Linked DNA regions of Homo sapiens. The protein of the gene in region 2 interacts with the protein of the main gene of each other region in a pairwise test. Each region holds a gene or a part of one and is shown on either strand. Other genes may lie near its edges. The genes, in order: KLF6, GARS1 and IARS1.

Region 1 (8,084 bases), on a different chromosome or scaffold from region 2:
CCCACAGTTGAGAAGGTTCCCTGCTCAGTTCCGGAGAAGATGGAGGCGTGGAGGTGACAGAGGAGCTCAATTTTCCCGAGCTGACCAAAACTTCGCCAATGGGGTCGGAGGTAAACTTGGCCGTGGGAGAAAGTTCCTCGGAGCTGTCAGAGGATTCGCTGCTGACATCTGAGTTCAGGCTGTTGGTCTCTAAGTTGTAACAAAAGCTCGGGCTGATGAGAGTGTCCTCTGGAGGACTGGAAGATATCTTCAGTTCGGATTCCTCCTTTTTCTCCCGAGCCAGAATGATTTTGGTCCACAGATCTTCCTGGCTGTCAAATTTGATTTCTGAGGCTGAAACATAGCAGGGCTCGCTCTGGAGGTAACGTTCCAGCTCTAGGCAGGTCTGTGCAAAATGAACCAGAGAAGGCACGTGATTGCCATGACGACCAAAAGTAAAAGCAAAAGCAATTTCCAAAAACATGCAAGAATGAAGGACAGATAACATTGCTGCCCGGTCACTACAGGGGCAAAACCTTTTGTAATTAAGCATCCGTGTCCTTACGGAAGTTAGAGGAAATCTGTTTCTAGAATGGTAAGAATTCAGAGGAAAAGTCGGAGGGTGAAACCTCTCCTGGCTTTCCCAATGTTGGGCCAAGGGCCACAATGAGTGATGATCACTAAGCCGGTTTTTTTGTTGTAGTTACCAGTGTTGATGTTTCTCATGAAACCAGAGGAAGAGAACCGGCCCCATACACATACTCCTCCCCAACAGGTTCAACCAGATTATCTGACATTGTCAAGAACCATGTGTTTTAAGGAAAGCCCCAGCCATCCACCCTTCACACTCCACAGATACCCACACAGGACAGAAAGACTGCACGGCACACAGCGTGTTCTGAGGGACCCCCTTGGGGACACGGCTGACAACACAGGGCCACACTCGGGGGAGAGGAGACAGCAGCTGTCTGTATTCAGGGGCATCGAATGGAGCTGCAGAAAAACCACCCATTTCCTGTGTAGCCCAGACCGCCTATGTTTTCACAGAATGCCGTTCCCAAGTGCAGGCCCTTGCATGACACAGAACTTTAATTACTTCTACAGTGGTCAGAGAAAAACAAGGAACTTCAACAACAGGAGTGCAGAAATAATTCCAGCATGGCCATCTGCTATTGTGAAGGGTGCAAGGGGAAATTACTCCACGGCCCTGCTGGGAGTCCCACAATGAACAAGAACTTTATCTACTGGCCAAGAGTACAACTGCATGAGTCATCACTCTGATTTCTTTCACGCAATGCCAAAGGAGACTTCCTTTTGAAATTCTCATCAGCAGCCAAATAAGGACCCAGCTCAAATGGACATGCAGTGTGGCATGGACAGTACCCCTTCCCCAGCCCCGCAACCAACCTTTCAAGAAGCTACAACTGCCGAGATCAGCATCCCCTCTCCCCACCATTTCAAACTTTCTAGCCACTGGAAAAGAAAAATGGTAGGAAACATTTTAGGATTAAATTATGTCTGCCCTGATTTTCACGAGGATCAGCTGCCTGCATGTCCATATAAGGTTGTCTATACTACTGGCAATTCTACAGATTTCAGTTTCTACACCAAACGGCTCTGGTGAGCACGTCATTTTTCCGGGCAGGGACCTTCCTGAGCGCAGCCTACCCCAGGGGCTCAGGCTGACTTAGCAGTGTGCCTCTCTCCTGCCACAGGCAATCCCTCCCCCTCCCCAGGCTCGCACACAGCCGGTGGGAGCAAGCACACGGGAGAATCATGCTTTCCCCTTTCCCCCGAAACCAGGCGTCTGAGTTACAATGCACACTACAGCGTTCTGAAGAGAGGCAGCAGCGATGTATTTTATTGATTTAACAAAGAAAAAAGAAAAGCACATTTATGGAGATCTTGTTAAACTTTAATAATCCGGCCAATTTAAAATCTCCATTACGCTGATGAGCACCCGGGACCTGAACGAAGCTCTCGGAGAGTTTAAAAGCCTCCAAAGGCGACCAAGAGCCAGGTCTGGCCGTTTGCCCAAATCCCAAACGCCCGAAGGAAACTACTTAGATCAATTTCAATCACGTCCTAGGGAGCAGCTTCTTTGAGGAGGAAAAAAACAGGAGGGGGAGGGGGAAAAGGCAGGAGAGGACTGTGAACAATTAAGCAGGCGTGTGAAGGTTGCAACACCCTGCATTTCATCTTCCTTAAAGCTTTCGAGGCTTGGAAACCCACAGCCTCTATTTGATCTGGCAATTCACTTTGTGACGAAAAACAAACAGCACAGCAGGGCAGGGAGACAACAGTAAACCCTCCTGCGATCGCTGGAGAGACAATGGGAGGAGTGTCAGTCTCTCTCCCCTCGGGCGATGCTACCTATAAGCACGGGGACCTGGTAAGTTTCTTAAATTTCCAATGCCCCCAAATTCCAGTTCTACGACAATGTCGGAAACCGAGGTCCTTCTTTCCAAACTAAGACTTGAAGCAGTTTGGACGGGCTCATTGTCACAAGACTGACAAGTCACTGGGGTGTACACAGTTTTATTTTTATTTTTCTTGGTCAACAAGAGAAGCAGGGAAGACAAATAAGGCAGATCTAGGGGAAATGTTAGGCATTCCAAAGAGCAGAAAACACATTGGAAATGGTCTACAGTTTAAAAAAGACAAAAATAAAAGAGAGCTGGTCTACGTTCTGGGGGCAAAATGTGATTTTTTTAAAAAACTGTTAAGTACAAGCACCAAGAAACAAAACAAAAACAAAATCCGTTAAAAAAAAACAACAAAAAACAAACAAACAAAAAAAAAACACCTTGGCAGGCAGAGCAAGTTGGTCCCCATGACAAGCTCCAGCTGTGGCGTCTGGAGCGGGGACAGGCTCCGAACTCGTGCCAGGGGCTCGGCCGGGCTGTGCCGGGAGTTGGGGCTTCCCTGGGCGGACGCTGATCGCAGCCTGGAGGATCGATCGGCGGGGGCGCTGCGCCCGCTCCCCCGGTGACAGCGCGGGGCCCAGGCCCAGCGGACCGCAGAGAGCACCGGGTCTGAACCCCAAACAGCCGACCCGGCCCGCGCCCCGGCGCCCGCAGGGAACCGCGGCCGGCTGCGTTTACCTGTTGCCAGTACTCCTCCAGAGACGGCAGCGCCGAGAAGTAGCCGGTCTCGTGCACGATCTGGAGCTCCTGGAAGATGCTGCACATGGGGAGCACGTCCATGTCGGGCCGGGTTGGACGGAGCCCGCGGTCGCGAGGGCGGCGAGGCGCGCGGTGGGAGCCGGAGCCGAAAGTCTCCCCGGAGCGCAGGTGAAAGTTTCATGCAAACTCCAGGCTCGCAGAGACGCCCGGCCGGACCCTCCCGCAGCCCGCAGCGCGCGGAGCCCACACAATATTTGCAAACACCGGACTGACTGCAAACGTAACCCCTGCAAAACTTCCCTATTCAAAGCTCCGCTGCCAGCCTCCCCCTCCGCCCCCGCCTGGCTCCCCCCACTCCCCCTCCCCCCACGTGACTCGCCCCGCGCCCGCCCCGTGCGCGGCCCAATCCCGTGGCTCCCGGCCCGGGGGCTGCGCGCCGATGATGTCAGCTCCGGCCAATCGCAGGCGGCGACACACAGCGGCCCCGCCTGGCGTGACCGAGACTCTCCATCACGGCCCGCACCATTGGCTCAATTCGAACTCTGCTCGTTCTGATTGGAAAGTGGCCTCGCAGGCTATTTTTAGCAGGGTATATAAGGCGCGGGCGGCCGCGCGCCGGAGGAGTCCGCGCTGTGAGGTGCGCGGCCGAGCCCTGCACTGCGCCCGCGGCCGGAGCTAAGGGAGCCGGGGCTGGGAGAGCCGGGGCGGGCCGCGTCGCCTGTCCCCAGTCCCGGTCTCTCTTCCCCGCTGCCCGGTCCCGCCACCCCACGCCCGTCCCGGTCACCAAGCCGGGCCCTGTCGCCGCGCGAGCCCCGGTTCCGGCAGCTCACCCTGCGGGCGGCCGTCCGGTCCCGGGGCCGCCCGGTTCCCCCCCGTCCCCTTCTATGCCCGAGGCCGCCCCGTCCCCAACTGTCCCCTTCTACGCCGGGGGCTTCCCGGTCGCCAACTGTCCCCTTCTATGCCCGGGGCCGCCCCGTCCCCAACTGTCCTCTTCTGCGCCGCTCTGTTTCCCTACATCCCCCTAGTCATCCTCTGTTCTCTAACCTTGGGGTACCCCTCTCTGTCCTCCTCCACCTCCGGGTCCCTCTCTGTCCCCCTCCATCCCTGAGCCCGTCTCCGTCCCCCTCCAGTCCTAGGGTCCCCTCTGTCCTCCGGGCCACCAGAGTGGGGGAGGGGAGCACGCAGGCTCCCCTTGGAATTGGGAGAAACGTGTTTATCTTGTAGAGGGCGATCTTAGCCCTCACCAAGGTTAACAGCTAGGTTTTCCCATGAACGTGTAAACAATTTAGGTGCAAGCCGACATTTAGTGTGTGTGTTTTTTTCCATATAAATTATCTCCTAAAATATACCGTAATGTTCATTTTTAAGAAAAATGTCGAGACTCGAACCAGAGCATTTTAAAATCCAAAATGGAAAACTGAATTGTAACTGTATTATAGTTTTTGTTTCAAAATAGTTTAATGAACATTAAACATTTTGAAAGAATGGACTATGTAAAAAAAAATTAGAGGGTTTTGTATGTTAAGTTTTAGAGGGTCCGGCAGAAGCATGTGGCTGTAAGACTAGGTGGGGACCTTAGTGAGTCTGGAGTGGAGAAAGGAGGTTTGTCTTGTACCTGCGGTATGTGGGCGGTGAAGGTTATGCAGAGTGAATTGACAGTGTTCTTGGCTCGTGTTCATCACATTTACCCCAGCAACTGAGAGCCAGGACCAGCCCTTCTTGGGGACCTGCACCTTAACTCTGTTTCCAGGAATGCAAATGGCTTTGTTTTGAACCATCCACAGATTTGCCCAAGCGCCCATTGACCGGGGCCCAGTGACTGGCAGCCGAGAGCATCTGGGCAGCCGTTGTGTTGGGGGCAGGGTTCTCTCAGTAATTAGCGCTTGTGACCTTGGCCCCGCTAGTTCCTAAGTAAGCAGGAGTGTGGAGCAAGTCCCCCGCTGAGGGCCAGGCACGCTGGATCAGGGGGAGCCCGAGATGAAGGGGGAAGGCTCTGTCTGGGCCAGGGAGGACAGGACGGCTGTCTTTGCAAGGCGTGTGGGCGTCCTGGTGAGGGTGTCCCATTTTATCTTTGGGACAATTAATTATTGTCTTAATGTTTTTTAATAAATCCACATTCCTATAGAACTTAAATTCATCCTTGTCTCTTAACATGCTTTGCCCGGCACTATGAAGATTATATAGTTTATTTTTACAAGAGGGAACCTGATTAGTCATAATGCAGATACAGTACAATGGCCATTGTCATTTTCAGAAAAAAAAAAGATTTGAAAACAGGGTACATATGAACACTAAATTTCAAATAGAATAGATCCTATGGCATCCTGCTGCGCTCATTGACCATTGAACACACATTACTCACACCCTATGAATGGCCAGGTATTGGTACACAGAAATTTACAAAACAGGCACAAATCCCTATTACGGTGTGGGAGAGGTGGGCTGCCAGGAGTATGTAGATGTTTGAAAACAAAAGTCCTTATTACGAGTAAGCATGTAACCAGTTGGTGAAAAAATATCATTTTCTTTGATGTGACAAAGAATATGCATCGCATCTGAACACTAATAGTTGCGCCTGATTTTTTTAAGAAGAGCAACAAAGAATCGTAGAGGGCCAGATTAATTCAGAAGGGGGAAGTATGGCAGGATATAAAAAGATGATGGATTTTACACTTTAGTTGTCCATGCTGTGCGCATGGCCCTGGTCACGTTATTTAAATAGGAGATTAAAATGACTATTAGAATGAGTTTAGTATAATCAGAAGAGTTAATGGATTAAAATTCCTGCTTGGTAGCAAATAGTAGTGATTCAATAAATTGAAGGCAGTGTTCACTTATTCACCATTTAGCCATTTGTAAGTTTGCTCTTGGTAATTATTTTATAATCCCCCACCCTTCTTTTAACATATGAGTGAATGCAGACAGAAAAATGAAGTCAACTTTGCAGGCCACAAAGCAAATCAGAGACAAGAGTTGGACCTCGACTTGTCCAATAATCCCACAGGTGCTTCCTTCTCCTGCCGGTCGCTGAAGAGCCCTGCTCTGTTTTCACTCTCGCAGTCTTGGAGAGAAAATAATCAGCTCCATTTGTTGGACGTGACCCTTGTTCTCTGCTCACCTTGAGCCACTCCTGTCTCTGCCACTATCTTCAAAAGGTCAAGATCCCTTCTGGGTGACAGTCGTAGGCTCCTTTCGACGTTCCTGGGGGCCACTTCACCCCCCTGGCACCCCGCTGTTACTTCCTCAGTCCCCACTTAGGCCTCCATGCCCTCCTCCACTGTTTTTCTTCTCCTCTTAGACCTCCAGGCTGTGCTCATTTATTTCATACCAGGAAGCTCTCTTTGTTGCCTCTCAAAAATAAAAGTATACATTTGAAACCTAATTTTAAATTTAATTTAAAGATTAATGGGATAACATGTTGGTATTGAGTACATTTGATCTTCCTGTTCTAGATCATTCAAGACGGGCTCTTGGGGGAAGTCTTACAAATCTGTTCTGAGGATAATTCCAATAATGCCCCCTAATTATATTGACAGAGAATGCTCCAATTTTGGGGCAAGAAGCCAATTTTGTTGTTCTGTTTTGTTTTGGTTTTGGTGTCTGTACCAATATATTGCCTGTTTTGGAGCAAACTACCCTTTTATTTCATCTGTTTATTTTGGGTGTGCAAAATATAATTGTTAAGAAAGTACTTCTGAATATTTACATGATAGAGCCTATGTAAGTGTAAAATGTTCCTTTTTTTTTGAGATGGAGTCTCCCTCTGTTGCCCAGGCTAGAGTGTAGTGGCACAATCTTGGCTCACTGCAACGTCTGCCTCCTGGGTTCAAGCAATTCTCCTTCCTCAGCCTCCCAAGTAGCTGGGATTCCAGGAATGCACCACCACGCCTGGCTAATTTTTGTGTTTTTAGTGGAGATGGGGTTTTACCATGTTGGCCATGCTGTTCTTGAACTCCTGACCTCAAGTGATCGGCTGCCTCTGCCTCTCAAATTGCTTGATTACAGGCATGAGCCACTGCGCCTGGCCCTGTGATGTTCATTTCTCAATTATCTCATTTGCAGATAGTTCTATCTAAATAGTGAGTTGCCTTTTCTCTCCCTAGCGTTTTTACATAACATGTAAGGTGTAGTAGATTCACTTTTTAACCATTTTTGCTTAGAATAATGAAGGAAAATGCCCTATTGATAGTTTTCAAAAGATGTTGAATTTTACTGTCAACATAGGCAAGGTAATAAGTACAATGACAGGATACCTCTGGGGCATTGGTCGGGGAGAACTTCTGTCTATCTAAGACCTTTGTTTTAGTAGCCCTCTTTTAAAATATAATTGTAAAATGGGACAGCTGTAAAGCTCAGTTCACAATAGGGCCTCCAGAAGGAGCTCCCTGTGAAATATCCACAGGTACAAGCTATACCACGTGTGTGGTTAAGATACCCATTCTTTACAAGGTGGTCTGTGCATTCCACACACTTCCCATCAAAATCTCAGCAGGCTTTTTTGTTGAAGTTGTCCTGCTGATTTAAAAATGTATAGGAAATGCTGAAGAGAGCTATACCTAAACCAGTCCTGAAGGTTGAAAGTTTTATATTATGTGTTTCAAGACTTAAAGCAAAATTGAACGTGATTGTGTGACATTGGCTTTGATACAGTTAAATCAATATAACAGAATATAGAGCTCAGAAATACCATCATTCTTATACACTTTTAAAAAAAAATTTTCAAAAAGGTACTAAACCTATCCCTGTGTGGTTTACTGAGGTCTTGTATCTGTGGTTTATTGTATTTCATTAAATCTTGGAAAGTTCTTGATCACTGTAACTTCAAATATGTCTTCTGTCCCATTCTCTTTCTGTTCTCTTTCTGGGACTCCAATTGCACACGTGCTAAACAGTTGGATATATTGTTCCACAGATTTCAGATGCTCCATTTCATTTTTTCATTCTTTTTCCTGAATGCGTTTCTTTTTTTATAATTTCTAT
Region 2 (7,854 bases):
TATAGTTTGGTGGTTATAATTTACTGCAGATGTCAACTAACATTTATGTACTGAAAGGTAAAATTACAAAAACGTGCCTGAGAATAACAACATTGGGATAGTGGTTACTTCTCTGGATGGAAAGAGAATTGGTGTGGCATTAACTGCAACGGTAAATTTTTTTATTAAAAAAATATATAAAGTACACAAAAAGTATTAAACTCTCTAAGGGAGTTCTCCCCTCTCCTTAAGAGCCTCTGGGACTCTGGAGCTTCTTGTTTCATTTAGCCCTGTTTTCCAGTGACTTTCCATTTTCTGATCCCTAACCCTCACAATGGCACTTAGATAAGGACGAGCAGGCATCCAGTGGGGTTTATAAAGCAGTACAGCATAACTGTTAAGAGCATGAGTCTGGTGTCAGACAGCCAGGTTTATATCCCAGCCTCACCACTCACTGGCTGTGAGACTTAAGCAAATTACTTAACTGAGACAGCAAGAACAACATCTGGTTTAATCTGAAATCAGAATCAGAGCAAACTAAGAGAAGGAGCTGGGTATGAAACAAAAAGAAAAGTAATAATCTTTTCTCATACAAAAGGAAAAACATTTTATTGGTTTGATCTGAAAATAAAAAGAAGTCCCAGAAAATCTAAAAAGTGTAAAGAAATTAATGATCACCCATAATCCTAAAAATAATTACTATTATCATTTTGACATATGTCAAGCAAGCTTGCTAAGAAAATCCTAACAGATTACAGTAATTCTTTCTAATTCCACAAGGGAAAAAGAATATATTAAAAACAACATCATTAATAGCCATTTATAAACATATGCATATTATTATGCATTTATGCATGCATGTGTTAGAACACGTAGAAAAATCATCTAGAGAAGGCAGACATACCCAAGACCATGGAGCTAAGCATGATCTTTTTTCGTCTGTTTGTTTGAGACAGGGCCTCACTCTGTCACCCAGGCTTGAGTTCAGTGGTGCAATCATGGCTCACTACAGCCTCAACCTCCCGGGCTCATGTGATCTTCCCACCTCAGCCTCCCAAGTAGCTGAAACTACAGGGGCGTGCTATCACACCTGGCTAATTTTTGTATTTTTTGTAGAGACAGGGTCTTGCTATGTTGCCCAGGCTGGTCTCAAATTTCTGAGCTCAAGCAATCTTCCCACCTCGGCCTCCCAAAGTGCTAGGATTACAAGCATGAGCCACCACACCCAGCCAGTTTGGACATTTTTTAAAAGCTGTTTTTTACAAGCTGTAAAAAACAACAAAGTTATGTGACAGAGACTCATAAAGCTAAAAATATTTACCATCTGGTCCTTTATAGAAAATGTTTGCTCAATACAGAGAAGAGACATAAAACACCTGGGGAGAGGCATATAACTGGAAGTTTAATTTTCTACATAATAGTCTTCAGAATTATTTTTTCCTTTTTGTTTTAAAAAAAGTAGTCATTACTTTTTAAAATATGACTAATTTTGATTTTTAATTTTTAAAAATCCATAAAAAGAAAGCCATTCTGAAAAGTAAAAACTGAACCAAGGGTATACTGGAACCAGTGACCCCTGGACTAAAGTCTCTTTCTATGTAGGCGAGGAAGCCTCTCTAACACCCAATAAGAGAAATGCCAAAAGACTCTCAGCCTTGTTTTAGATGCCACATTTCCTCCTGCCACCAATATAGACAGCATCTCCTATATGCAAATGCCTTTCGTCCCTCCGCTTCAATACTGATGTTCATGTTTGGTGGTGGAGGCTGGAGGGGTGACAGGGCACAGGGGCAGGAGGGTACCTGGAGATCGTCTGTGAATTTTGAGTTAAATACATAACATTTGAGGAAGGTAGTTCTTAAGCCAGAGATCAGAATCAACTAGTATATTCCCCAAAGCTACTACATAGCTCATTGAGCTAAGAGCACTATGACTTTCTTTATTCAACCTCTCCACCATTTCCAATGTTTGCTGGGACTCTTGCCAGGAAGGAGAGGCCAATGTGTCTTAGATCCACTCCAGGATATTGCCAGTAATGCTGCCAATACACTGTACAGCAGTGTACACATCCGCACTGTCCCATCATACACTAACTCTGTCTCTCAGCTATCTAAGACTACAACGAGCTCCTTAGGACACTTATAAAAAGGCAGGAGGCAACTGCTTTTTCTGTTTTGCTCAGGAAAAGATCTCTTTTCTTTTCCCTTTGTTCCTCTGTGACATAAAGTGCACAAAAATTCATTTGGTACCTGTGCTTCTAAGTTAACAATGTGAAAATCACATGGTAAACAGCACTCCACTTACGTAGGATGTTTTGGATTCTGCATCCCAACAGTCACAGGCATAATGGGCCATCTCATTCTCCATGTGCTGCCGGAAGCGGAGTTTATCTGGAGATATTCCAACCTTCGTGAGGTAGAGGTAGATGCGGCCAATGAAATAGCCTAATACTGTGTTATTAATCACACCCTAAACCAACCAATAAGCAAGCATGGAGGAAGAAAAGAAAACACACATTAATACTCTTCAAAGCCAAGATATCGGTTTCCATTGACTCACTCTACTGAAAAATATTTGACACCCAACACAAACTATTTTATCTTGCTTTCAAAACAATTTCAAATACTCAGAATGAGATCTTGGTTATTTTTTAATGGGTTAATGTCAAGATGATGATAATGGAGTTATTCAAAATCTGTCCAACATACTTACTGGGTCAGCAAAAATTCAGCCCAGTACCTCATACCTCTAAATCTACAGTACTAAAAACAATATTCATAATTGACACTAAAGAATGGCAAAGACATTCCCCTCTGAATTAACCAAAGTAATGACACGTTGAGGGGATTTTAATGTATCCTTACCCACTGAAATTTGTGAACCCCGTAGAGTACACGTAATCATTTTAGTGTTTGCAAGGACCTTAGAAAACATCTAGCCCCATCTCCATACACTGCAGAGGTCTTCTCTGCAAAGTGGCTGACAAGCTATCGTCCAACCTTGCCAGGAGTATTTTCAGGGCCAGGAAGCTCACTGCTCCCTGAGGCAACTCATTCCACTAGTGGACAGCAGCTACTGTTGGCAAGTTTTCACGCACTCACTTCTCCAGGCAAATATTTACAAAGTGCTTATATGCAAGGCCTTATTCCACTGCTATGGGTAATACAGAAGAGTCTGAAACCCAGATGGCTTGCTTTCTGTGGGTCCAATGCTGTCTCCCCCAAAGTAGTACATACTGTTGAGTCAGATTGGTGAGGCACAATGCAAACCAAGATCTATTTTCCAAGTGCTCTGCTAAACATTTTTTTTCATGCTAGCCCCAAGGCCCACAAATTGAGATGTTCAGGTGATTTTTCTCTTACTATAATAATACTGTATAACAAATTCTGTACAAAACCAAGTACTGTAAAAAAGCAAATGACTGCCAAAATAAAATATCTTGTCACCCAGAACACATAGAATTTGCTAATTGCTGCAAACCCTGAACAGGCACAATCTAAGTTAAGTTACCTCCAGAATCCTACCTGTTCAACAGCATCTCCCAGGCGCATTTTCCGAGCGGACTGTCCGCTGACCTGGGCTTTTGCTGAATACAAATAAAGGTGAAGGTCTGCCACATTCTGGAACTTGGGGTGGTCTTTCTCACTGGGATCTACAAAGTGCTCAATTTCTGCCATTGTGAATTCTCTGAAAGCAAAAACGTAAGCGATAAACCTGCATATTTAACTACAAAAAACAAACAAACAAAAAACAAGGCCTCTATTTTCAACTGCATTCTAGTGATAAAGGCTCCATACTATAGTGGTCTTTTTCACTAAACAGAAAGTTGGTTTCCTAAGGGAATGGCCAAAAAAATTTTGAATTAAATTTGTCTGGGTAGTTGTTATTTTTATTTTTTTGATGTATTATATTTGTACAAATTTATGGGGTACATGTGAAGGTTATTTTTAAACACATTAATGAAAATTTTATTACTCACTATTTAAAATAAACATGATCTAACTTCTCTGAAGTATTAATTCCTTCCCTCCAGCTACATCCAAAAAGATTATTACTTTTAACTGAAAATAACTTGTTAAAGGCAGATTAATATAGTTTTTTAAATTAGGAAAACATACGCAAAAATCACATGAAAAATAAGAAATAAGATATTGAATAGTGACATGCAGATAAAATGGTTTTCCTTAAAGCATTAGCAAGTCTTTATAAGTATACACTAAATGAAGTTTCTTCATCCCATTTCAAAGAATGGGAAATTAAAAGCGAAATGAAATGGTTCTTTAGCTTTCATAGCAGTTTGATTTCTTCTTTTTTACTGCTACAAAAAAGTAAATGACTGATAATGGCATCATACAGTTGGTTTCTTTGGAGCAAGAGCTTCTTAAATAAAGTGTTATTCAAGGCAAAGGATATAAGGCATGAATTGAACAAGCTAACATCAAGCTAATTACCTAACGATGAAGTGCACATAGTAATGGTTTCCCAAAGAGATTTCTCTGAATGCAATTTAGTAGCTATTTGCGGGAGAAGTGTTTCAAGTTAATTTTATGAGTCAAAATCAATCTCTCTTCTTTCAAGAAAAATCACATTTTCTGGTGTGCTTCCATGATTATCTCAGATGTTTTACGAGTAATGTAAAATTGCTTAAATGGATCCTAAAAATACATGAAATACACTGCAAAAGAGGTTTAATTTTTTTTTTTTTTTTTTTGAGACGGAGTCTCGCTCGCCCAGGCTGGAGTGCAGTGGCGCGATCTCGGCTCACTGCAAGCTCCGCCTCCCGGGTTCACGCCATTCTCCTGCCTCAGCCTCCCGAGTAGCTGGGACTACAGGCGCCCGCCACCACGCCCGGCTAATTTTTTGTATTTTTAGTAGAGGCAGGGTTTCACTGTGTTAGCCAGGATGGCCTCAATCTCCTGAACCTCATGATCCGCCCGCCTCTGCCTCCCAAAGTGCTGGGATTACAGGCGTGAGCCACTGCGCCCGGCCAAGAGGTTTAATTTTTAAATTTTATTTTTTAATAGTGTCTCTTATTTGGTCCTGCTGCACCTATGTTTTAGTTGTCTTTCAACAACTAGGAAACATCTTCTGTGCCCATATAAATGTGAGAGAAACAAACATGGTGTTTGTCCTCACATAGCTTATAATTGGGCTGACAGCAACTGAACATCTACAATGTGGGACAGGATAAATTACGGGCCCTGCCTAGAATCTCCAAAATGCTGCTGCCAAAGTCTTTCCATCTGTTCTGTCACAAATCTCAGCACTGTGTCTATAGTTAATGATTCACTGTATACCTGAAATCCGCTCAAAGAGTAGATGTTAAGTAGATCTCACCACTAAAAAAAAAAAAAGTAACTATGTGAGGTGATAATTATGTTAATTAGCTTGACTGTGGTAATCATTTCACAATGTATAAGCATATCAAAGCACCACACTGTGTGACTTGAAATCATACAAATCATACAAAATTTACTCATCAATAATCTCAGCTCATAGATAGGAGGCAGGAATCATCAGAATTCTGAGTAACTGTATCTCAGTTCAGCAACTGTACCTGAAACTGTAGAGAACTAAAATACACACAGGCTAGGAAGACAGATAAGTCAATCAAAATAAAATAAAATTTTAGAAAAATCTTCATATGAACAATCTAATACCTCTAAACTAACAAAAGGACAAAAGGAAATACAGCTATGCAAAGATTAATCACCAGAGAACTCTGCCATCAAGAAGAATCAGAACACTAAATAAACCAATCCTAGTCCTACCATGGAACAAAAGCCAGGAGGATGCTGACTCATGAAAAAACTAGTGGACTTCTGGTCAGGAACTTGCAAGGGACATAACAAAACTAGCCAGAATTCAGACATGACACTTTGAAGTGAAAATGACCAAAGAATCCACTGTTGAGAAGCCCCAGAGCCTTTCTACCAGTTAACCCCTGGGATCACTCCCAAGTTCCAAGCTGGTTTCCCTACTCACCACTTTTTTACTGCACAGGCCCCAGACACTGCCTTACTTCTCAGTCCTTCTCAATAATCTTCCCATAGCTACTCTGTGTAAACCCTCTTCGTAACACTGGCTTCAGACAAGGTCAGCCTTACGCAGCTTCCTCAGTTTGGGAAGGCATACTTGCTAGATATTGAAACGGTGAAAAACAAAAAAACAAAAACACTCAGACACTGGGAAATAAAACAAAGACTCAAATCTGACAAATTTGTCATTGCCATCATACCTGGCTAAAGTTTCTGATGACCTCCTCTTTTTACATGAAAGCTCAGAGGGGTCATTCCCCCAACTTTCTCTAAGTTGGGCACATTCTTTCCTCTGTAAGTCCCTCCTTCCTAAACCGTAAACCTGTAGGGCCTAGAGATACAGTTTGCGCAGAACATAGGCATCTTCTCCCAGATGGCATCATGGGAACTAACAAGATGAGGCAGGTGCTGTGGATGCTTTGATCCAGAGTCAGTGACTGGGCTATGTTATGACCCAAGTCTGTAATTACAGTGAGTAAGAAGAGAAGACAGGAAATGGGTGGGCGCTGGGGCTGGGAAAACACTTTGGGGCCTTAGAAAGTTATGTTTAGCTACACCTCGTATTTTATATGGAATGTATTACTCTAAGAGATGATACCAGGAATAACGTATAGAAATCACAAAAAACTTAAGTCATAAACAGCTGAGTCATAATAAATTTCTAAAGAAATATAGAACTCACCAGCCCCAATATGCCTTCCCACACATCCCTGGATAGATCAGACAAAAGTAGGCTATTTGAATAGAGGCCAAGTGAGTGATGAGGGTAAGCTTGCTTGCTGGCCTTTCTGTCATATAGGCCCCCCAAATACCTGGACGGAGGTTGTTTCCAGAACTCCAGTTGGTTACTGATACATCCTCACCCCAACTTCAGCAATGTTGTCTGCCCTAGATATCTAGAACAATCCTCCTGCCACAACTTTCACCCTACCCCCACCCGACCCCACCCTTTTATACACATCACCATTGCCAGTATTGCCTTGGTTTAGACAATCAAGATATTACCATCCTCAAAATATACGATGAACAAGGAAAAAGGTAATTTTGGAGCAGGTGAGACTCTTAAGACAGTCTCCACCCTCCTTCCTTTCCCTTCAAGTTCACTTTTGTCACTCAAAACTGCCTGTCATCCTGGAGATTACATTTAGAGATTCCAAATGTAAAACATGATTTTTGGAGAAAACAAAAATAAATTCATAATCAGGATTATGAAGCAGAATTGCTTCAAAACAGCAAGCTTTCATTTTCAATGCAATGCCAAGGTCATTCACTAATTTGTAAGAGTAACCTGAGCAGTACCTGACTCTGATCAGTCCAGATCGAGGGGAGATCTCATTTCTAAAAGAATTTCCAATCTGGGCAGCAGCAAAAGGCAACTTTCCTTGGTTGAACTCCAAAAGTCGTTTGAAATTCAAGAAAATCCCCTGTGCAGTTTCTGGTCTCAAGTACCTATAAATTTAAGTAAGTCAGTCTGTTACAAAGAAAGAAATTATGTTTTCCAACAATCCTGAAATTCTAGATACAAATCCTAAAAGTCCTAAATATACCATTTTCACAACAAAGTTGAACAGGCCCTAAAATGAAGTTTTAGAAATATTTTCCTCGGTAGCAAACATTTTCATAGCACGTATTAGAAAATGTATTAAGTAATTAGTGTGGCAGTACTACTTTGGCAATGCCATTTCATTTAATTACACCAGTGAGTCAAAACCCCACTTCTCAAAAAGCAGAAATAAAAATAAATTTAAAAACACCACCTCAGGCCGCGCGCAGTCGCTCACACCTGTAATCCCAGCACTTTGGGAGGCTGAAGTGGGCGGATCACCTGAGGTTGGGA
Region 3 (8,217 bases), on a different chromosome or scaffold from region 2:
TTTGAGAAAATGCCAAAATTTTTCCAAAGTGACTGTACTATTTTACATTCCCTCAGCAGTGAATGAGGATTCTAATTTCTTCAGATCTTACCCAACACATCTTATTGTCCATCTTTGAATTACAGTCATTCTAGGAGATGTTAAGTAGTATCTTGTGGTTTTGATTTGCATTTCCCTAAGGACTAATGATGCTGAGCATCTTTCCACATGCTTATTGGCCATTTGCGTATCCACGTTGGATAGATATTTATCCTTTGCCTATTTTCTAATTGGGCTCTTTTTGTGGTTGGGTTTTAAGGGTTATGTATACATCCTGGATACAAATCCTTTATCAGATATATGATTTATAAAAAATTTCTCCTGTTCTGTGGGCCGTCTTTTTATTTTCTTGATGGCATTTTTTGAAGCACAAAGATTTTTCATTTTAATGATGCCCAATTTGTCAATTTTTGGTTTTGCTGCTTGAGCTTTTGGTGTCATCAATAAACCATTACCTAAACAAGGTTATAGATTTTTCGCTTACATTTAGGCCACAAATAATTTTATTTTCGTATATGGTGTGAGGGAGGGGTACATGGCTATTATTTAATATTCAGTAATGGTAGAGACAATGTTTCCAAAAGTAAGCAGGAAAATCTTGGAAATTCTATCTAGTGGTGCAAAAAACTCATTAATAATCTGAAGAAAAATATCTCAAAGTAGTTAAGAATTTTCTTACCTACACTCACATGACAGAAATCAGTTCTCTTGAAGTAACTTCATCTTCTCTTTGAGGAAAACTGGTAAAACTTAAAAAATCTTAAAGCTAAAAAGATGAGAATCTCACATTCAAATATAGATTCCAGTTTTCCATTTTACCCTTTTTATTGCTTATTCATGATTTTTATGAAGGATGAGCCCTATACCTTTCTGGTTTAGTCCCTAATGAGAGAAGTCTTAAAGTGTCTTTTTAAATGTTTTGCTAATAACCTCATGCAGAGATACTTGATCAATCTATGACTTAAGTATCTAGTGAGCCACCCTTGAGACCTTTCCTTCTCAAAGTCTATTTATATTTACTTAACAATTCTAACAAGGTGGGTGACGAGCTTTCCAAGTCAGTATCAGATCAGAAGGGGATAAAATTGCTAATAAGGGAACAACAGAGAAGATAAAAAATCTTAAGTACTCAAGAACCACAACAGACCAGGGTAATCAACTCTACAGGAAAAGACACCTACATACCTCAAACAGTTTTGAAAGCATCAAAAGCATCATAGTCTAATCAAGTTATTGATTCAAGTTATCATTTAAAAAAAAGTCTGTGACAAGTAGTATCTTTCATTTTCTTTTACCCTCATTAATTTTTCAGATGTGTGAGTGCCTCTGAGTTTAATTTAAGAAAAAACAGGACAAGAACAGTTGGGCTGTTTAACTAACTGAAATAGCTATTTCTGATCACAGTATGCCATTAAAAGGTATTAAACAGAAGGTTTAAGGCATTTTAGATCTTCAACTCTTATTATAACCTCTAGCCTTTCAAGGACCAAAATAAGTGTTTGTGCATTTACTGATTTATTTAGGTTCATTGTGTACCTTATCAGAGGCCAACTGAAACTTATGGGATTGTTATCTGAAGACTAACAGACCTTTAGATACCAACACATTCTAATCTCTTCAAGGCTGGTCCTACTATGGCCCACATCTATGGGAGCTTATTAGAGATGCAGACTTACCAGCCTCACCTCGCACCTACGAGTCAGAACCTGCATTTTAACAAGATCCCTAGGGGATGAGCATTCACATCAAAGTCTGAACATCACCACTCTTGCACTGTTCTAACAATTATTCAGGAATATCTATCTGAATTTTTATTTTTGAGAAAATAAGATTTAAGCTTTCTGAGAAGAGGATCATTCCTTTTTTTTTTTTTTTTTTGAGACAGTGGCTCACTCTGTCACCTAGGCTGGAGTGCAGTGGCACAATCATGGCTCACTGCAGCCTTGACCTCCCTGGGTTCAGGTGTTCCTCCCAGTTTAGCCCGCCAAGTAGCTAGGACTACAGGTGTGCACCACCACACTCAGCTTTTTTTTTTTTTTTTTTTGGTGGGGAGGGGGTGGTTTGTAGAGACAGGGTTTTGCCATGTTGCCCTGGCTGGTCTTCAACTCCTAGGCTAAAGCGATCCTCTTGCCCTGGGCTCCCAAAGGGCTGGGATTACAGGCATGAGCCACTATGCCTGGCCAGCTCATTCAGCTTTTACTGTGTTTTTTAGGGAGTCTCTACTTTCCCCAAAGATTAAGAATCACTGCATTATTACGTCAAGCATAAACACTCAGTATAACAGCATTGACTATTCAGGAAGAATCATGTACCAGCGACCGGGCTATGGCAGCTGCTGAGGAGAAGCAGCCTCCATGCATAAATCACAGGATTGCTATGGCCCATCGAATCCACTGGAGAGCTGTCCATGCACAACAGCATCCAGCAACCACAGGGCAGGGACAGAGCAGGTTAACCTTGCACAACAACCTTGTTGTGCAGAGGGATGCCATCCCCTTTGCTTCCCTCTTATTATAATCCAGGCCCTTGACTCTTCGCTGCTCCACAACTCCTTCAGGTCACCTTAACCTCAACTTCCCGTTCAGCAATTTCGAGACCACCCTCCCTGATATTAACTACATATTATTCACATTACTTCATATTATTTTGCCTCAATATATTTTAGAAACGCACACTAAAACCATGTTTTGTTTAAAATTTCATAATTCCTTCCAGAATTGCTTCCCTTTTAAACTACTGTATTAGTGGTTCCAATATTCTTCCCATTACTTAGGCATGACATTTTTGAGTCACCCCTGACACTACTCAGAAGATACACACAACCAATTAATCATCAAGTCATGTGGATCCTACCTATAAGCCTATTTCTGTTCCCCCTTTTCATTCTCCTCTAAATCCATTTCTGTTTCTCCTTTTATTCTCAGGTCTTCATAATCTATTAAGTCAAATGTAACCTGAAAGTGGGACCGTCTCAAACGTTTCCTCAATTTAGTTATATCCTATTAACATAGACTCCACAGGTATACTCATGCAAATGTACAAAATGTGTATACAATGACATTCACCGAATAATTGTTTCTCCAGGCAAATAACTGAAAACAATCTAAATATTCATGGTGACTGAAGTAAATTACGGTACATCAATAAAATAAGTATCTCGCAGCCATTGAAGGTAATAAATTAAGACATATAAAAATACGTATTGCCTATACATAAAGTCACAGCTATATCAATTTATACTATGTATATCATTTTAAAAAGATTTTACTCATTTCAAACACTACCTCATTCAAAAAGGCGACCATAAATTCCTGAGGCTGGAAACGAACGAACGGCAAGCCCCGAAGAAACACGCTCTTTTAAAAATTAAATCTTGTGCTACTGTTTCGGGGTTGTAACGCGTGCGTGACCCTCGTCTTTGAGGGCCGGATCCTGCAGGGAAGAGAGGGCGTACCTGAGGGGCCTCGCGTGCCTGGACAGCCCCGCGGGCCAGCAAGCCTAAAAGCAACTCATCCGGCGTCCACGCTGCAACCGGGCGCACGGAGGTGATGCAACGCGCTGAAAATGCGGGATCCAGTGAAGGAGACAGGCTCCGCACCGGCCAATCAGTGCGCGCTGCCTGACACCTGCCAACAAGCCAGGCGCCGATTGGTCGCGCCGGACATGATTGCGCCCACTGGCTCGGATGGTGCGACAGTGGTGCTTGCTGGTTTTGCGCCTCCACGTGGAAAACGAACCAGCGCTGAGGGCGGCGCTGTGCGTGCTGCTTGTATCCGTTGCAGTAGTGTAGACCGAGGTCTCACTCGGGTTGTGGGCACCTCCGGGTAGGTGACGGCCCACTGGGAAGGGGCGCCGAGGTCGGGGCTCATGTTCTTCATCTTGTTTGCTTTTGTCAGTATTTATCTGACTGGACACTTCGTACCTAAATTGATAACGACAAACAGCAACTTCCGGAGAGGTGGCTTTAATAATTATACTTTTGGGCCCTGAGCCGCCGACCCCAAAGCCGCTTCTCCTATCATAAATGGCTACGTGAAACGATAATAACAAAAGGGAAGGAAGGGTCTGACAACCAGATTTAAAAGTTTTATTGTATTTTACTTAAAATGTTTCCGGTAATGAAAACATTGCACAAACGATTTTTTTTTCTTTTTTTGAGAAGCGGTCTCATTCTGTCGCCCAGGCTGGAGTGCAGTGGCACGGTCATGGCTCACTGCAGCCTCAACCTCCCCGGATCAGATGATCCTCGCACCTCATCCCTGGCCAAGTAGCTGGGACTACAGGCTAGCGCCACCACGCCCGGCTAATTTTTGTATTTTCTGTAGCAACGGGGTCTTGCTATGTTGCCTAGGCTGCTGTCAAACTCGTGGGCTCAAGCGATCTGCTTGCCTTAGCCTCCTTAACTGTTGGGATTACAGGCATGAGCCACTGCACCCGGCCTGCATACTTATTATCATTGCTATGAGTCGGCTTGGTACCTTACTGATCTGCTGGTTAAAATCTGGAGCCTTGCAAAGGGCAGTAGGCCTCGGGCTTTGGCCCCAGAGCCTCTAAAGGAAATTCTGGATCTTGCCAAATTGGGAGTAGTTCCGTAGCTGCCTATTGTATCCGTTAGAGGGATATAAAAAATTTATCTGGCCTAGAATAGGTAGAATGCAGTTTCTTATTAAGTTTAGGAACATTTTGATAGTCTGTTCAGCATATATTTAACTTTACTTACCGTCTTGGCCCTGTGTGAAGGATTAAAGTGGTTTCATGTCCTCCATCATGGGTAACTCAGTGTTCTGACTATACTCACATAACGTACATAATTTAATAGCTGCAAATCTTGTTAATTAACTGAAAGTATTTGGAATGTGTTTGAAGTTTTCACATTCCTCACGTTGCCACCTTGTTCAGTTCATTTTTGTCACCTATCCAGAGAGCCCAGATAGAGCCAGACAGAGGGCTCCTGGACAAAGGTGAGGTAGGCCAAGTCTAATTATTTAAAAATTTGATTGAGAAACATTTATATTAATAGTACTGTTGTGTTGGAAATAATGCTCAAAATCCTAAGGAAATTGAACATTCAAACAAAGGATTTTCAGCAAAGCAATTTTACTTCTGCGCAGAGGGGTGCTTCTCCTTGGCCAGTCACCATGAGAGCACACCAGAACAAAGGGGCACGAGAACCTTTATCCCTGACACAAACCCTGCCCCTGTACCCTTTCTCCATTGGCCGGAGTTGGGCCTCACAATCTAAAATAACCACAGTTGGCTAAACATTTTAACTTTCTTTAGATAAGGTGGGCACGTAAGAGAGAGGGGAAAGGGGGAAGGGCTGTCTGTAATGAGCTAGAGAGCTAGTCTTCTCTTCGGATAAGGAATACGAGCTGGTACTGATAACGCCTGGTACTGTGGCCTGTCTAGGCATGTAACAAAGGCAGAAAGGAAAGAGGAGAAAAAGGGAAGAGGGGGGCACTGTGAATTAAAGAATAAAGGATTGATCAGGCTATTTGAAGAGAAACCTCATCATGTCCCACAGTTGGAAGGTATGGGAAGACTAAGTCTAGAAAAAGTTAAGCAAATGAAAAAATTCCAGCAAAAAAGTTAACTGTAGTCAAAATATATTACTTGGACTGAAGAGGTGAATAATTTTTTCACCTTTTCAGAATATGTAGTGTCTGGAAGTGAAAAACCAAGAAATCAGAGCATAAGCATGTTAGGTAGAAACATGGAGGTAAATACTAGAGAAATTAAATTGCTGAAGGTGGTTTCATCTGGGGAGCAGGAACTGGGGGGTGGGCAAGGCTACTTGATGTTACTTATTTGTCTGCTTGTGAAACATGTGCCGGATTTAAATTACGGCCACACATTCTGACACTCCTCCCACTAAGAAGTGAGGATCTGTGTCCCCTCCCTTTCAGTCTGGTTGGGCTGTGTGTCAGTTTAAACCTGTAGAATACAGTGAAGTGACTGAGCCGGTTTCTGGGCCAGGCCTTAAGAGACAGGCAGCATCTGCTTCCTGCCTCTGAGAACACTTGCTCCTAGAGCTTTTTTGCTATGCTGTAAGGAAGCCCATGAACAGGCACTGAGTGGGCCATCTTAGAAACAGATCCCGTAGCCCTAGCTGAACCACCCCAGTGAAAGCACACAGCACAGATCAGCAGTCCCTAGTGAGTGTTGACCAAATTGCAGTATTTGTGCATAAAATAAATGATTGTTACTGAGATGATTTGCTATGCAGCAATAGAAAATAAGGTACAAATGTGATCTACATCAAGAGAAGGTAGAAAGTGTGAATTATTTATCCTGCTGCTTAGTTGTCCACACTCTCCTTGAAGTCTGAAGTTTTGGAAACCTAGGAATCCAGAATTACTCTTCAAGTTATTTAGTTCCTTGGACCCTTACTAAAAAAACATAGAGCATAAGCCCTAGGGTCATAATGGTTAACACACCAGATGAAATCCCAACAGTTAAGAGTTTATATTCAGCATAGGTAAATCAATAAATACTAATTTTAGGTACACACATCATGGCTTAATGATAGTCCCTTGGAACTATATAATACTATTTCTTTTTTTTTTTTTTTTTAAGATGGAGTCTCACTCTGTTACCCAGGCTGGAGTGCAGCAACATGATCTCAGCACTGCAACCTCTGCCTCCTGGGTTCAAGTGATTCTCCTGTATCAGCCTCCCTAGCAGCTGGGATTACAGGTGTGAGCCACCACACCCAGCTAATTTTTGCATTTTTAGTAGAGATGGGGTTTCACCATGTTGGCCAGGCTGGTCTTGAAATCCTGACCTCCTCATGATCCGCCCGCCTTGGCCTCCCAAAGTACTGAGATTACAGGTGTGCGCCATCACGCCCGGCCTATGTAATACTATTTCATACAGAGCCCATTTTGATAGGAGACGTATGTCTTGAAATCTAGGCAGGTTGGTTTATTTAATGTAATGTTAAATCTGTTTCCCTATTTGGGCTCAGGGTCCTGACTCCTAATTGTGACTACCTATCTTTCAGGCACTTGGTATTTTTCATAAGCTTTTAGTCTAACTAGAATTTTGGGATTGGTGTACATCTAGATGTTGTTCCTTAATTCCTAGAGGCAATGACAAGATAACTGTATTTGGCTTCCTCTCCTGGTCCTCACAGAACTCTTATATGATGTTGGTCTGAAATGTCCTATATTTCAGTTAACCATTCACCAAAACACAAGTATAAAACTCAATGTTGACTTGTAATTTATCAGTTTAAACAAAAATGACAAAATGGAAGGTGTATTTGACATAATCAGAAATAAAATTTCAAATAGCCTATAATTCACACAAAGCCTAGGCTGGAAAATACAAGTGCTTTGACTCATTTATTTAAAAAGGCTTCATATAAACCTTGCATGAGAAGATGTCCATTAGTTACTCAGGATAGAGGGCAAAGAGATTATATACAAAAAGTATTTTCAAGGACTATCTTGTTCTTCCTTTATAAGAAGTTGAATTTAATTTTTGAAGTAATTACTTAGGAAGAAATGCAGAGGAGTTCCACAGAAAAAGATGGCAACCAGAATGATATTCCGTCAGCCAGATTTTTAAAATTCCTTCACTCTGAAATTTCTTCTTTGTCAGCTAAAACTGTTTTCTGGGTCAGTTTCCTTAGGTGAGCCTTGTTCACATTCAGTATCAAAACCAGCTGACATTTATTATTTTGGTTTCATTTTCCTTTTTGCGTCTTTATGTTTCTTTCGACAATCCTAGGAAAAAAAAAAGACTTGGTTAGCAATAAACAAATTGTTTTTAAGATGTTCAGTAGATAGAAGTAAAACAGGTTATTCTCACTGTCAGGGCTGTGGAAACCTATTTTGAAAGTGCTCTTTTGAAATGAAGAGGGGATATTGGCATTTTTGGCATTAACTGTTTATAATGGGAACTATAATTCAGTCTTTAAAAATCTGATGCTTTCGTGTTACTTAATAGGCTTGGCTGGATTCTGAGACCAGTCACTCAATTGAGCCAGTCTGCAGTCTCCTCACCTATACCATTCATGAGTTCCCTTCCAGGACTGTAATTCTAGATAGGTAACATGTCTATTTTAGGAAATAATATGGAGAAACAATTACTCACCATACGCAGGTTGGTTGTTCTGGCCTCCCAAGAGTTCCTGCTCATATTACTTCCTACTCCTCTCCAGAATAAGTCAGA

The links.
Region 1: the proteins of GARS1 (region 2) and KLF6 interact in binary tests that used the Homo sapiens proteins (3 or more experiments, as listed by UniProt).
Region 3: the proteins of GARS1 (region 2) and IARS1 interact in a two-hybrid assay, tested with the Homo sapiens proteins (one study listed by BioGRID).

Annotation. Positions count from the first base shown.
Region 1 is NC_000010.11:3,781,830-3,789,913, forward strand, and holds the start of KLF6 (Krueppel-like factor 6), read right to left. Parts: upstream 3,381-8,084; 5' UTR 3,186-3,380; coding exon 3,084-3,185; intron 386-3,083; coding exon 1-385.
Region 2 is NC_000007.14:30,611,708-30,619,561, reverse strand, and holds part of GARS1 (glycine--tRNA ligase isoform 1 precursor), read right to left. Parts: intron 7,467-7,854; coding exon 7,317-7,466; intron 3,667-7,316; coding exon 3,504-3,666; intron 2,449-3,503; coding exon 2,284-2,448; intron 1-2,283. UniProt on the Homo sapiens protein: Catalyzes the ATP-dependent ligation of glycine to the 3'-end of its cognate tRNA, via the formation of an aminoacyl-adenylate intermediate (Gly-AMP).
Region 3 is NC_000009.12:92,290,118-92,298,334, forward strand, and holds the start of IARS1 (isoleucine--tRNA ligase, cytoplasmic), read right to left. Parts: upstream 3,581-8,217; 5' UTR 3,494-3,580; exon of another isoform or gene 3,324-3,493; intron 2,477-3,323; exon of another isoform or gene 2,341-2,476; intron 806-2,340; exon of another isoform or gene 719-805; intron 1-718. Other genes in the region: NOL8 (nucleolar protein 8), read right to left, coding at 7,719-7,769, 8,140-8,217. UniProt on the Homo sapiens protein: Catalyzes the specific attachment of an amino acid to its cognate tRNA in a 2 step reaction: the amino acid (AA) is first activated by ATP to form AA-AMP and then transferred to the acceptor end of the tRNA.